Linked DNA regions of Homo sapiens. The gene in region 3 interacts genetically with the main gene of each other region. Each region holds a gene or a part of one and is shown on either strand. Other genes may lie near its edges.

Region 1 (3,500 bases), on a different chromosome or scaffold from region 3:
CCCTCATTAGGCATTTTAAAATATATTTTAGACAATTTGTGCTTATTTTGAGAAATTAGGTACATTGTAGCCTATTTTAACAGACCTTTCTGATGTAGTAAATTATAAGCTAATAGCTCAAAATACTGGAGCTCAAGAAAATCCAAGCAACATATACTGTTAAATTTCTTTGTTCTTTTCAAATTTATAAACGATGCTTTTTTTGGTATATGTCCATTTCAGATCATGGAAAATGCTGAGATTAACAATATCATCAAGATTGTGGGTCTTCAGTACAAGAAAAACTATGAAGATGAAGATTCATTGAAGACGCTTCGTTATGGGAAGATAATGATTATGACAGATCAGGTCAGATTTGTTATTAAATTTTTAGATTGTTCAACTAAATTAAGCATGTCTTAATTTAATTTCATTGTTTTTTGCCATGAAAATAAATTAGTTAAATAGGAGCTTTATTCATCATCTCTAATCAACATCTAATCAGATATGCTTATATCATATGTATGTTGCAAATACAGGTTAAGTGAGTCTGGATTTGAACAGACCTTTTTTGATTCCCATAGAAAATTTGACAAATTGCCAGTAGGTCAGTCATAATATTTTTTTATTTCTAAACAATTCTTTGTTTGTTTGAGATGGAGTTTCGCCCTTGTCGCCCAGGCTGGAGTGCAATGGTGCAATCTTGGCTCACTGCAACCTCCGCCTCATGGGTTCAAGCGATTCTCCTGCCTCAGCCTCCCGAGTAGCTGGGATTGCAGGCGGATGCCACCACACCCAACTAATTTTTGTATTTTTAGTGGAGACAGGGTTTCACCATGTTGGCCAGGCTGGTCTCGAACGCCTGACCTCAGGCGATCCGCCTGCCTCGGCCTCCCAAAGTTCTGGGATTACAGATGTTAGCTACCACGCCCAGCCTAACAGTTCTTTTGAACTTTGGCTTTCAAATCTTTCTAGGACCAAGATGGTTCCCACATCAAAGGCTTGCTGATTAATTTTATCCATCACAACTGGCCCTCTCTTCTGCGACATCGTTTTCTGGAGGAATTTATCACTCCCATTGTAAAGGTACGCTAATTTCTAAGTACCATCATGGATATTTTAAGACCCTACTCCTCAAACCTGGATATACATATAAGCCCCGTCACATGTAGTGGTATACAGGGGACCCCACAGTGTACAAAGCCACAGTCATTGTTTTTTATCACAGGTATCTAAAAACAAGCAAGAAATGGCATTTTACAGCCTTCCTGAATTTGAAGAGTGGAAGAGTTCTACTCCAAATCATAAAAAATGGAAAGTCAAATATTACAAAGGTTTGTAATGAAACCCATATAGAACTTCTCATTTTATTATACACCCTGTACAAGACTATATGAAGGAACTTGGTATTTTTGGTTTTATAGGTTTGGGCACCAGCACATCAAAGGAAGCTAAAGAATACTTTGCAGATATGAAAAGACATCGTATCCAGTTCAAATATTCTGGTCCTGAAGATGATGCTGCTATCAGCCTGGTAGGTTTGAGTTGTATTTTATATACATTCTAATTTTAGAAATCACTACTTTAGCCAGTTGAAACATTTACATTTTTGTATAAGACTCCGTATCAAAAAAAAAAGAATGTTTTATAGAATAGAATGTTTCCAGTAAGCATATCCCAGAGAAGGAATCAGATATTTTAGAAAATTTTGATTTTTGGCTGGGCTTGGTGGCTCATGCCTATAATTCTAGGACTTTGGGAGGCCAAGGCAGGTGGATCACCTGAGATCAAGAGTTGGAGACCAACCTGTCCAACATGGTGAAACCCCCTCTCTACTAAAAATACGAAAATTGGCCGAGCGTAGTGGCTCACGCCTGTAATCCCAGCACTTTGGGAGGCAGAGGCGAGCAGATCACAAGGTCAGGAGATCAAGACCATCCTGGCTAACAAGGTGAAACCCCATCTCTGCTAAAAATACAAAAAATTAGCCGGCCGTGGTGGCACGCAGCTATAGTCCCAGCTACTTGGGAAGCTGAGGCAGGAGAATCGCTTGAACCCGAGAGGCAGAGGTTGCAGTGAGCCGAGATCAGGCCACTGCTCTCCAGCCTGGGCAACAGAGTGAGACTCCATCTCAAAAAAAAAGGAAAAAGGCCAGGCGTGGTGGCTCACGCCTGTAATGCCAGTACTTTGGAAGGCTAAGTCGGGCAGATCACAACGTCATGAGATGGAGACCATCCTGGCTAACACGGTGAAACCCCGTCTCTACTAAAAATAAAAAAAAATAAAAAATAAAAAATTAGCCGGGCTTGGTGACACGCGCCTGTAATCCCAGCTACTCCGGAGGCTGAGGCAGGAGAATGGCGTGAACCCAGGAGGCGGAGCTTGCAGTGAGCTGAGATGGTGCCACTGCACTCCAGCCTGGGCGACAGAGCGAGACTCTGTCTCAAAAAAAAAAAAAAACAAAAAAGGTCGGGCGCAGTGGCTCACACCAGTAATCATAGCACTTTGGGAGGCCGAGGCGGGTGGATCACCTGAGCTCGGGAGTTCAAGACCAGCCTGACCAACATGGTGAAACCCCATCTCTACTAAAAATACAAAATATTAGCTGGGTGTGGTGGCACGTGCCTGTAATCCCAGCTACACGGGAGGCTGAGGCAGGAGAATCACTTGAACTTGGGAAGTGGAGGTTGTGGGAGCCGAAATCGTGCCATCACATTCCACAAGAGTGAAACTCCATTTCAAAAAAAAAAAAATACAAAAATTAGCTGGGCGTGGTGGCGGGCGCCTTTAATCCCAGGGGCTCAGGAGGCTGAGGCAGGAGAATCGCTTGAACCTAGGACGCAGAGGTTGCAGTGAGCCAAGATGACACCATTGCACTCCAGGCTGGGCAAGAGAACAGTAACTCCCGTCTCAAAAAAAAAAAAAAAGGAAAACAGTATTTTTGTTTTTCTGTTGTTCGTTCTTTGTAGAAGGATATTTTGGAACCTATTAGCCTATTAGTACCAGTGACATCTTTTCATCCTTTAATTTATAGGCCTTTAGCAAAAAACAGATAGATGATCGAAAGGAATGGTTAACTAATTTCATGGAGGATAGAAGACAACGAAAGTTACTTGGGCTTCCTGAGGTAAAAGTTTTAAATATATGCCACAAAATGGATTGTTAGACTGACCTTTTGGTATTGATACTATAGCAAATTAAACTTACTGAATAGTTATTTTAGTAAAAAATTTGATATGATAGAGTTGTGCAGCAGTTAAATTTGCTTTATCTTTAAAACATATAAAATATTTCTGTATTATTCAATATTTTTTAAAGACTTAAGAATTACAGAAATAATTCTTAGTTCTGAAAGGTTTCTGTTTGATTTTTGTGTTGAGCATTGTTTAGACCGGTAGACTCATGTAATACTATTTGGTCCTTCAGGATTACTTGTATGGACAAACTACCACATATCTGACATATAATGACTTCATCAACAAGGAACTTATCTTGTTCTCAAATTCTGATAACGAGAGATC
Region 2 (3,500 bases), on a different chromosome or scaffold from region 3:
TATTTTCTTACAGAGCTGAAAAAGGAGAGAAGGAAGGATTTGATAATTTGTCATTTGCTTTTTATCTAAACATGCTTTTTGAAGAGAATCTGCCACCATAAAGTTCTGACATTGGTGTAATTATTCTTTGTGAATATTGTCTGGAAGATGTGGTGTTGGTAACTATGCTTGCTATCTCAAGTAATACATTGTTAACCAGTGATTGATTTATGTAACTATGAAAAAAACTTTAAAAAAAGTAGAAATCAATGTTTAATTATGCCCAGACATGTCATTATTGAACTTTGTATTAAGAGATTGTTTAAGCGTGATTTTAAGAGGGCCTAACCCATCTTACAGATTAACTGTACAAGTTCATATATTAAAATCAAACGTCTCTCATTTTGCCTGCCCTCATCCCCTAAGATATAAAAGATTCCCCCCCGTCCCCCCACTTTGGAGCTCATTCTTCGCAATATTTAAAATTGTAGCTCTTTGCATGTAATTTAGAACATTCTGACCCATACTCAACTGCTGGGAGACTCTGTTATTTATATTTAAAATGTTGACAGTGAGTTAGGAATTTGGAGCAGAAACCATATCTAAGTCTAAGTGAAAAGACTTCCTAAGTATTGGTAGAACTAACTGTAGTGGGGCTGAGTCATTATTACAGTACTGTACAGGCTGCGTAGCTATCTGTAGAATTGATAATGGTAATACCAGGTTAAAGTGTTAGCGATTCTTCTGCTGTTTCAGAGGTCTTGAAGTTTTTGCCTGTCTGCTATGGAGATAGGGAGTTCTCCCCCATTTGACCCCCTTAGCAAAGCACAATACTTGGCTCCATCAGTCTTTAGTCTAAGAAGTGATATATAGGATCATGGTTTGACATCATCTTGTGCTGATTCTGGTTGGCTTAATGGAATCAAATTGGATGAAGGTAATTAAATATGAATTGTTTCTGATGCTAATAGATAGTTGTACTTCTGTCTGTTGGGTATGGGTTGGGATGGGCGGTAGCATAGCTGATTGCGGTGGGGGAATTTCAGATAGCTGATGATGTGGCTATCTGAAAATTGCCACTACATTTTTAAAACTGAAAAGTGATGGTACCGCCAAATGAAATCTGCAGCATCCTCAGACTCAATCAGGAAATACTTAAGCATTATGCTCCAGGGTGGTTTTCTTCCCTTACATTGCAACTGGACTCCTTGAGGCACCTTTTTAGAATTAGTGAGCCGCTAGGATTTTTATACTATGCTTTGACATAAAAGAAAGTTGCTTGTCAATATGTGTTTTTTTAGTTTACCAGCATATCAGATCTCACAAACAAATTTTAGGCTCGGATTGGATGTTTCTAGTAAAAACAAGAAAATCCAGGCATCACTAAAAGAATCAGAAATACGTTGTGGCTTGAAAGGTGCAAACTAAATAATATAGCTAGCAGTAACGGTCACCAACTCCTGCTTTTCTTTGGTTCAGTAGATAGAGTAAAATGGAAAATAGGAAACCAAGGTCAGTCCCCAAATCTCATTTTAACCAATAGCAGCAAAAAAAAAAAAAAAAAAAAGGAATTGAGTCTGACTTTTTCCCCTTGCTGTCAGCATAAAGATGGGGAATTGAGAGAGTTGGAAAGACATTCATTAGTTTGTTCAGATTATTAAATAACATGTCTTAAAGTTTATATTCCAAAATTGGGCTGTGAGGTTTTTTTGTTTTGCTTGTTTTCAGTGCATGTGTGGGGTGGGGAGGTGCAAAAAAATGTTTGCCTTCTAATATACAGCTTTGTTGTATATTAATTATATAGTAACAGTTGTCCCTGCTGCTAATGGTATGGAAAATGATTCTGTTGTGCTTTCTGAATACATATCATTTTAGAAGTTTCAGATTATACTAAAACCATGTTATTTCATATTAGTTGGACATGAATGCATATTTATATGACACATCATTATCAACTTTTGCCTTTTGCCATCTTTTTAGTGCAAAGTAAAACTGATATTCTTCAAATCCAAAGTCGTTTCCTCAGAAGTGTGTTTTGTGAGGGATTGCATCTTTCCCATGTGAAACTGTGTCGAACTCCAGTAAACTGTGTTTGCTTGGGAAAATGAATTCAAATGTAATTAGTTTGAATGAAGCTGTGGAAATGTTTGAAATGAGTATTTTGACATTGGACCTGGAGGTTTAAAAAAAAAAACCCTATTGAAAGAATAGTAAAATATATTGGATGTGGAGGTGAGAGTCAGTTGAGTGAATTTTCTGTGTTGTATGGTTTAGATTATCTGACTATCCCTTAATTATTTTGAAACCATTAACTTTGGATAATAAGGGCATTTAGGCAAACAGTTGACACATGGATTTCTTAAGGTAAAAAGTTTAGAGACTTCCAAACTAGTCCTTAAGAGGCGAATGGGTATTGTGTTTAAAGGAAGCTTTCAGATTGTGTTTAAACTTCGAGTAGTAATATTTGGAACTGTCTTTTCTCCCTATTTCCATGCCTCATACATCTCAAGTTTGAGCAGCAGCTTTCCATCCCCATGGCTCCAGGCCAATAGCTGCAGTAGAAAATCTAAAATAGAGGCCAGGGTTGGAATAATTAGCATTTTGCCAACCCCCACCCTCCCTGCCACCTGCCTATCTAGATGTGGACAGTATGTGCTGTGTTGATAGCATAGGGCCTGGGAAGGGTGGAGAGGGATGTAAATGAGGGCAGGGTGGACAAAGTTTGATTGGGGGTTGCGGGGAAGCTTGTAGAGGAATGTCTGTTAGATATTGATGGTATTTTGGTGGCGTTATGAGAAATGGCTGATAGTTTGCTGAAATGATTTAATAGTAAATAGATATTGTTGAACATTTTCTGTGTGTATAGGAAAGATCCTAGATATTTTTCACACTGGGAGAGAAGTGATGTTACTGGTATCTCATGCATATCTCTGGAGTATATAGATCGTAATATCAACTTTGGCTATCTGTATCGAAGTTTGTATTAACTGTCTTTATGTGTGTCATTTATGTCTCTTAACGTTTAGTAAGAAAGAAATTCCAAGGAAGGTAGGCAACTTTTAATTTTAACTTCTTTCCTTTACTTTTTTTTTGGGCGGGGTGGGGGGCAGACAGGGTTTCTGTTTGTTGCCCGGGCTGGAGCGCAGTAGTGTGATTGCAGCTCACTGCAACCTCTGCCTCCTGGGCTCAAGCGATCCTCCTACCTCACCCTCCCAAGTAGCTGGAACTACAGGTGCATGTCACCACGCCGGGCTAATTTTTGCATTTTTTGTAGAGACGAGGTTTCTCGCCATGTTGCCCAGGCTGGTCTTGAACCCCTGGGCTCAAGCAGCCTGCCCACCTCAGCCTCTCAAAGTGCTGGGCATGAGCCACTGTGCCTGACCCTTAATTTCTTTTTGGTAGGTATTCATTTTTCATTTGTTGTCTTAAGCTTCTAGTTTCACTCACTTACCTGTCTGCTAAATTTTTCTGAAATGTGTAATAAATGTTTTAATTTACCATCTCCCTTCTACCCTTCCCAT
Region 3 (3,500 bases):
AATAACTTTATATTTTGGATAAGTAAACTTGATTTTACTTATAAGAAGAAACATTCCAACTTCTGGAAAACCCAGTGTAAAAAATTCTTTCCACTTGTTCATTTGTTCCGGATCAGCTTGTAGAACCCAGCAAATTAGGCTAATGTAAGGTATTCTATGTTTAGATTTTTGGTTTGGAGAATTTCAATTTTCTGGTAAGAAAAAAATGAAGGCATATTTTATTGTAAGGGAATAATGTAATAAAAATAGGAATAGCTCTTTTATCATGGTTTAACACTTTTATTGAATTTAAGTGTCCTTTAACAAAATATTAAGCTGTTTATAATATAAAGTGCCTATAAATTTAGACACACAAATTACCTTATTTCTTTAACCGGGAGTAAAAGTTGAGTATATATCCGTGATACAGAGAACGCAACACATGGCACATTAGATGAATTTACCTTTGAAGTACTTGTTAGTTTTCAGGCATTAAGAAGTCAAGGCATTGAGAATATTAATATTAAAAATTTTCTTAAGAAAATTGCAACCAGGGGGCACTGCAATTAATTAGTGTCACAGTATCTTATAGAGTAGTAGACCAGCCCCTTAAACTTATGCCTCAAGACTGGTAGGATAATTCTCTCTCTCTCTCTCTCTCTCTCTCACACACACACACACACACACACACACACACACACACACACACACATATATATATTTAAAATTTATATATTTATTTATATATATAATTTAATTATAATATATATAATATACATATTATATATATAATATAATTTAAAATATATATATATTTAAAACACACACATAAATATATATATATATATTTAAAATTATAATTCTTCTCTGGTACCTAATAGATACTTTGAGTAATATAGAAAATGAGTAAGATGAGAATTTCAGATATCAAGCTTAAAACCAAGTAGGAAAGTTATATCACTTGTATTTTATGTTTGCAGTGTATTTGCAGAAATAATACAGTGTATACAAATCTCATCACTATGCTGTAAAATACTGCTTGTGTGTATTAGTTAGGGTCTCCAGCCATTGAAGCCTCCAGCATTTTCCCTACTTCCTTATTTTCCTTTTCCTTTAATTGTCCTTCCAAGAATTCATGGGGAGTAACATTTTTATTCTGCTTCCGTGCTGATGCTATGAGACCCAGTAGAATATAAGTGACCTCTGTCCAGCAAATTCCCTTTGCTTTGGCAGGCATCTTGGGCTTTCAACTGTTGTAAGTTACATCATAAAACTGAAAGATTATTTAATAGTGTGCTGCATTGCCAAAGATGATTTTGACAGTTTGAGGCATGTATCCCATGAAAGGGGAAATTTTTTAACTTAAGATTTAATTTTAGTCTCAGAGATTTTTTTTAATTTTTTATTTTATTATTACTATACTTTAAGTTTTAGGGAGATTTTGAGCAGGTTGAGAACTTTAAGCTGGCAGTTTTTAATAGTTGTAGGTCTTTGCTTGAATAGAAGGTAACCCTGGTTTAATGTTTTTTTGTATGTCTGCAGTCGTCATTAATTGCAGTGGTTATCAAAGTGTGGTCTGCAGACCTCAGGTCATTCCTAAGACCCTTTCACAGAGTTGCAAGGTGAAAACTATTTTCATAATAATACTGAGATGGCTATTCTCATGATTTATCTGCCCTTAAATAGGAACAGTAGCATACCCAGTGCCCTAGCATAGTAATTTATTCTCCTCCTTCTCTTCTTCTCTTCTTCCTTTTCTCTGTACTTCTACCTTCCTCCTTTCTCTTCTCCAACATGCCCATGCACTTGTTTCTTCATTTATACAATGAGGTTTCTAATACAGTGAGGTCATTGGATTGTTTTGAAGATTAAATGTGTTAACATCATAAGTAACGCATAAAGTCCTTAAAATGGCACTTGACACATAGTAAATGCTCAATAAATGCTACTAATGTTAACCATTATTGCTGATAATGTTGTTGTTTTGTTCCCACCGCTTTAGTTATTGGCTTTAACTGTTTATGGCAGTACTTCTTATAATTTCTCAATTCAATTAAGTATTTTATAAAATAATGAAATTTGAGGGCCTACAAAGAAGTTTGTTCTTTCTAGGAAAACTGGGTTGTTTGGTTGGGAAAAAAATGCTTTAAAAACTACTTATAAATTTAGGGTGAATGAAACAGTTGTAAAACAATTGCAAAAATTATAAAAGTCTAAATGGTTTCTATACTCAGATTACTTCCTAAGTAATCACAAGAACTCAGATAAGGCCCTGGGACCTCGTAAAATGGTTGATGAGTTCCTATAATGTAATATTTTTAGTTAAAGTAAAATATTTAAGATGTGTTTGAATTTTAAATGATTTTTTAAACAACTTTTTTGATTAATAGTTATCAACCACTATTCCCTATTACATTGGAAAAGTGGGCCACTACTCTAATTAACAGAAGGGAACAGAAAGGGCAAACAAGATTACATACGAGTATTGTCCATTGAATTATGTTTAAAAGACTTAGGTGTAAAAACCAGATACATGAGAAGTATAGCAATCATTAATACATTCTAATGGCAATATCATATTGAAAAGGTGGTAAGTACTGTATTTGCTTCATGGAAGGATTGATAAGACTCTTTCACATGAATGTTTATGGGACTGTTGCCTAAGGGATTTATAGTAGCTAAAGCTCAAGTTTGAAATAATCTCCGTCTGTCCCCTACCTCCCCCCACCCACTTTTCTACTTGTAGGGACCGCGTTGTAGCCGTTTTTGTGCAGGGTCCTGCATGGCAGTTCAAAGGTTGGCCATGGCTTTTGCCTGATGGATCACCAGTTGATATATTTGCTAAAAGTAAGATTCTCTTTGTATTTACTGTATCCAGTATAGAAATGTTCTCACTTTATTTAAGAGAAACAGTCATATAGTTCTGCGCATATGATGTGTATGTCAAAAGATTGCTGTTAAGTAACATATGTTAATGTTTAAGCATCTGTGACATATTTTTAAAAGCTTTGTATATTAATACTTTCTGTGTAGGTATATCTGAAAGTGAATATTGCCTATCCCACAACATTACTAATTATTTTTAGATCACTTAAAAATCATTGGCCAGACACAGTGGCTCACACCTGTAATCTCAGCACTTTGGGAAGCTGAGGCAGGTGGATCACCTTAGGTCGGGAGGTCGAGACCAGCCTAACCAACATGATGAAACCCTGTCTCTACTAAAAATACAAAATTAGCCGGGCATGGTGGTGCACACCTGTAATCCCAGCTACTCGGGAGACTGAGGCAGGAGAATCGCTTGAACCCGGGAGGCGGAGGTTGCAGTGAGCCGAGATCACTTCAGCCTGGGCAACAAGAGCGAAACTCCGTCTCAATAGGAAAAAAAAATTAATACTGTTGCATGTCCATAGATTTTGATTAAAATTGATGCCAGTTTTTTTTTTTTTTTTTAGACGGAGTCTGGCTCTGTCGCCCAGGCTGGATTGCAGTGGCGCGATCTCAGCTCACTGCAAGCTCCG
Region 4 (2,578 bases), on a different chromosome or scaffold from region 3:
CTCCTGCAGCATGAAACCCCTCACCTCCCGCTCCTGCAGCAGAAACAAAATACTTGGTTCTGTTTATTGTCTCCCTTTCTCATTAGACCTGAGCTCTGGGATACTGTGGGCTTAAGTACTTCTGAAAATTTGTATGGCATCTGCTGGGTGAATTTTCCTAGGGTGCTGGGCTGGTTGTTAGGACAGTCTGGGTGACTGGCCTCATTCATGGCAGGGGCAGCAGGTGGAGAGTGGTCCGGGAAGGATTTGAGGAGCTGCACGGAGTCAGGCCCAGCCTCTGGCCTCCTGATTGCCACCTTTCTCAGGATCTTGGATACTAATTAAGAAACTCTTGACTGCTGGAGGCTGTGATTGACCCACTGAGAGCTTTTAGGCATGTGGATGTGAGTCAGCCAGGATTGATGGAGCATTGACTGCTAATTAGACTCCTCTGGGAAGGTAGAGGCGGGCAACACATAATGCCTTCGCTGTGGGAGCTTCATCAAGGGGATGATTCTTGGACGGACATTTTTCCTCCCTCTTTCCACAGGGGCATGCTAGCCCTGTCATTCTAGGAGTTTATTATCCTTCAGACACAGCTACTTATGTTTTTAATTCCCTCACAGGATGAAGACATGAAGAGAAAGTTTCAAGATCTTCTGTCTGAGGAAAATGAATCCACAGCTCTACCCCAGGTTCTAGCCCAGGTATTCGTATTCCTGATGATCACTAAATGTAGTCTGGGCTTAAGGAGCTGATAAGCAAAGATGATGAAATTCAAGATTTTCCTGAGTAGCAATTGCTTAACATTGTTTCAGTTATAATGTAGTAGAAACTCTGTTTTAACTTGATTCGCTCCAGCACCCTTAGATTTAAAAATGCAGGATATGTTTAATATCTAACACATAATAGACCGATAAGCACAGCTAGGGATTGTCATCCAAAAGGTCACCTGCAAGGCAATTTCGAAAGACTCTATTAGAGGCTCAAATATAAATTTGTTGAACAAATTAAAATTTGGGTCAGTAGTTGATTCCTTGATTACAATTTTATTCTTTAAAGTTCTTTGTGAGTATAAGTTAATTCCAGTCCTGCTTTTTTGTTGTTGTTGTTGTTGTTGAATGGTAGCTGTCCTTTTTCCCACTGTTTCCTCCCCCCAATTTTTTTTTTCTTGAGACAGAGTCTTGGTTTGTCACTCAGGCCGGAGTGCAGTGGTGCAATCTCAGCTCACTGCAACCTCTGCCTCCTGGGTTCAAGCAGTTCTCCTGCCTCAGTCTCCCGAGTATCTGGGATTACAGGTGTCCGCCACTGTGCCCAGCTAATTTTTGAATTTTTAGGTGAGATGGGGTTTTGCCATGTTGGTCAGGCTTGTCTCGAACTTTTGACCTGAAGCGACCTGCCCACCTCGGCTTTCCAAAGTGCTGGGATTACAGCTGTGAGTCACCGCACCCAGCCTTCCTCCCAATTTTATATATGGGAAAACAACTAAGGCACAAAGGTTGTCTTCCCGCAAAAGACCAAGACTTGGGGCTTCAACTGAGAGGTATTATAGTCCTTTTAAACTTGATATTTAGAAGAGGACGATCAAGAGGAAGTTGGTTATGCTACTTGCTTTCAGTATACATCGTTCAGAGGTCAGAAGCCATAAGGGAGAGAAATATCTATTAGATAAGCATGTCTGAGTTGGGGGCTGTGGTGAGGACTCAGTTGTCAATGATGACAACCAGTAATTTTTGGTTCTAGAATTTCACATCAAATGCCCCCACTTTACTGGAAGCATATTGAGGAACTTTGATAATCTTAAAGAAGCCAGTGATTTTCTTTTGAACATTTCTCCATTTTCCTTTATTTTCAGCCTTCTACTAGTCGAAAGCGGCCCCGTGAAGGGGAAGCCGAGGGTGCCGAGACCACAAAGCGCCCAGCTGTGTGTGCTGCTGTGTTGTGAACTCCGTGGTTTGAACACGAAAGAAATGTACCTTCTTTCACTCTGTCATCTTTCTTTTCTTTGAGTCTGTTTTTTTATAGTTTGTATTTTAATTATGGGAATAATTGCTTTTTCACAGTCACTGATGTACAATTAAAAACCTGATGGAACCTGGGCTTTGTGCTTCTGCTTGATAATCGGTTCTTTAGTTGAATGGCTTTATTATTTATTTATTTGAGATGGAGTCTCACTCTGTTGCCCAGCCTGAATGAAGTGCAGTGGTGCAGGCTTGGCTCACTGCAACCTCTGCTTCCCAGGTTCAAGCGATTCTTGTGCCTCAGCCTCCTGAGTAGCTGGGATTACAGGTATGCACCACCATGCCTGTTAATTTTTATATATTTTGTAGAGACAGGGTTTTGCCATGTTGGCCAGCCTGGTCTTGAACTTCTGACCTCAGGTGATCTGTCTGCCTCAGTCTCTTAAAGTGCTGGGATTACACGCATGAGCCACTGAGCCTAGCCTGAATGGCTTTTTTATATTTAAAGTTGTGTGCCTTTCATCTGGAGCTACACCTTGGCTATCACTAGGCAGGTTTCCCAGGATGTCACCCTGGTCTCAGCCTGTGAGAGCTGAATACAAATTCTAAGGGCCCCTTGGAAAGTTCCAGGGAAGGGA

What was found. A genetic interaction does not mean that the proteins touch.
Region 1: changes in CDC73 (region 3) and TOP2A are lethal when combined (synthetic lethality), as found in Homo sapiens cells (one large-scale study listed by BioGRID).
Region 2: changes in CDC73 (region 3) and TOP1 are lethal when combined (synthetic lethality), as found in Homo sapiens cells (one large-scale study listed by BioGRID).
Region 4: changes in CDC73 (region 3) and CHEK2 are lethal when combined (synthetic lethality), as found in Homo sapiens cells (one large-scale study listed by BioGRID).

The regions. Positions count from the first base shown.
Region 1 is NC_000017.11:40,404,397-40,407,896, reverse strand, and holds part of TOP2A (DNA topoisomerase 2-alpha), read left to right. Parts: intron 1-222; coding exon 223-348; intron 349-954; coding exon 955-1,065; intron 1,066-1,207; coding exon 1,208-1,313; intron 1,314-1,403; coding exon 1,404-1,513; intron 1,514-3,013; coding exon 3,014-3,106; intron 3,107-3,405; coding exon 3,406-3,500. UniProt on the Homo sapiens protein: Key decatenating enzyme that alters DNA topology by binding to two double-stranded DNA molecules, generating a double-stranded break in one of the strands, passing the intact strand through the broken strand, and religating the broken strand.
Region 2 is NC_000020.11:41,031,822-41,035,321, forward strand, and holds part of TOP1 (DNA topoisomerase 1), read left to right. Parts: intron 1-3,500. UniProt on the Homo sapiens protein: Releases the supercoiling and torsional tension of DNA introduced during the DNA replication and transcription by transiently cleaving and rejoining one strand of the DNA duplex.
Region 3 is NC_000001.11:193,233,531-193,237,030, forward strand, and holds part of CDC73 (parafibromin), read left to right. Parts: intron 1-2,725; coding exon 2,726-2,826; intron 2,827-3,500.
Region 4 is NC_000022.11:28,687,243-28,689,820, reverse strand, and holds the end of CHEK2 (serine/threonine-protein kinase Chk2), read left to right. Parts: intron 1-605; coding exon 606-686; intron 687-1,834; coding exon 1,835-1,924; 3' UTR 1,925-2,078; downstream 2,079-2,578. UniProt on the Homo sapiens protein: Serine/threonine-protein kinase which is required for checkpoint-mediated cell cycle arrest, activation of DNA repair and apoptosis in response to the presence of DNA double-strand breaks.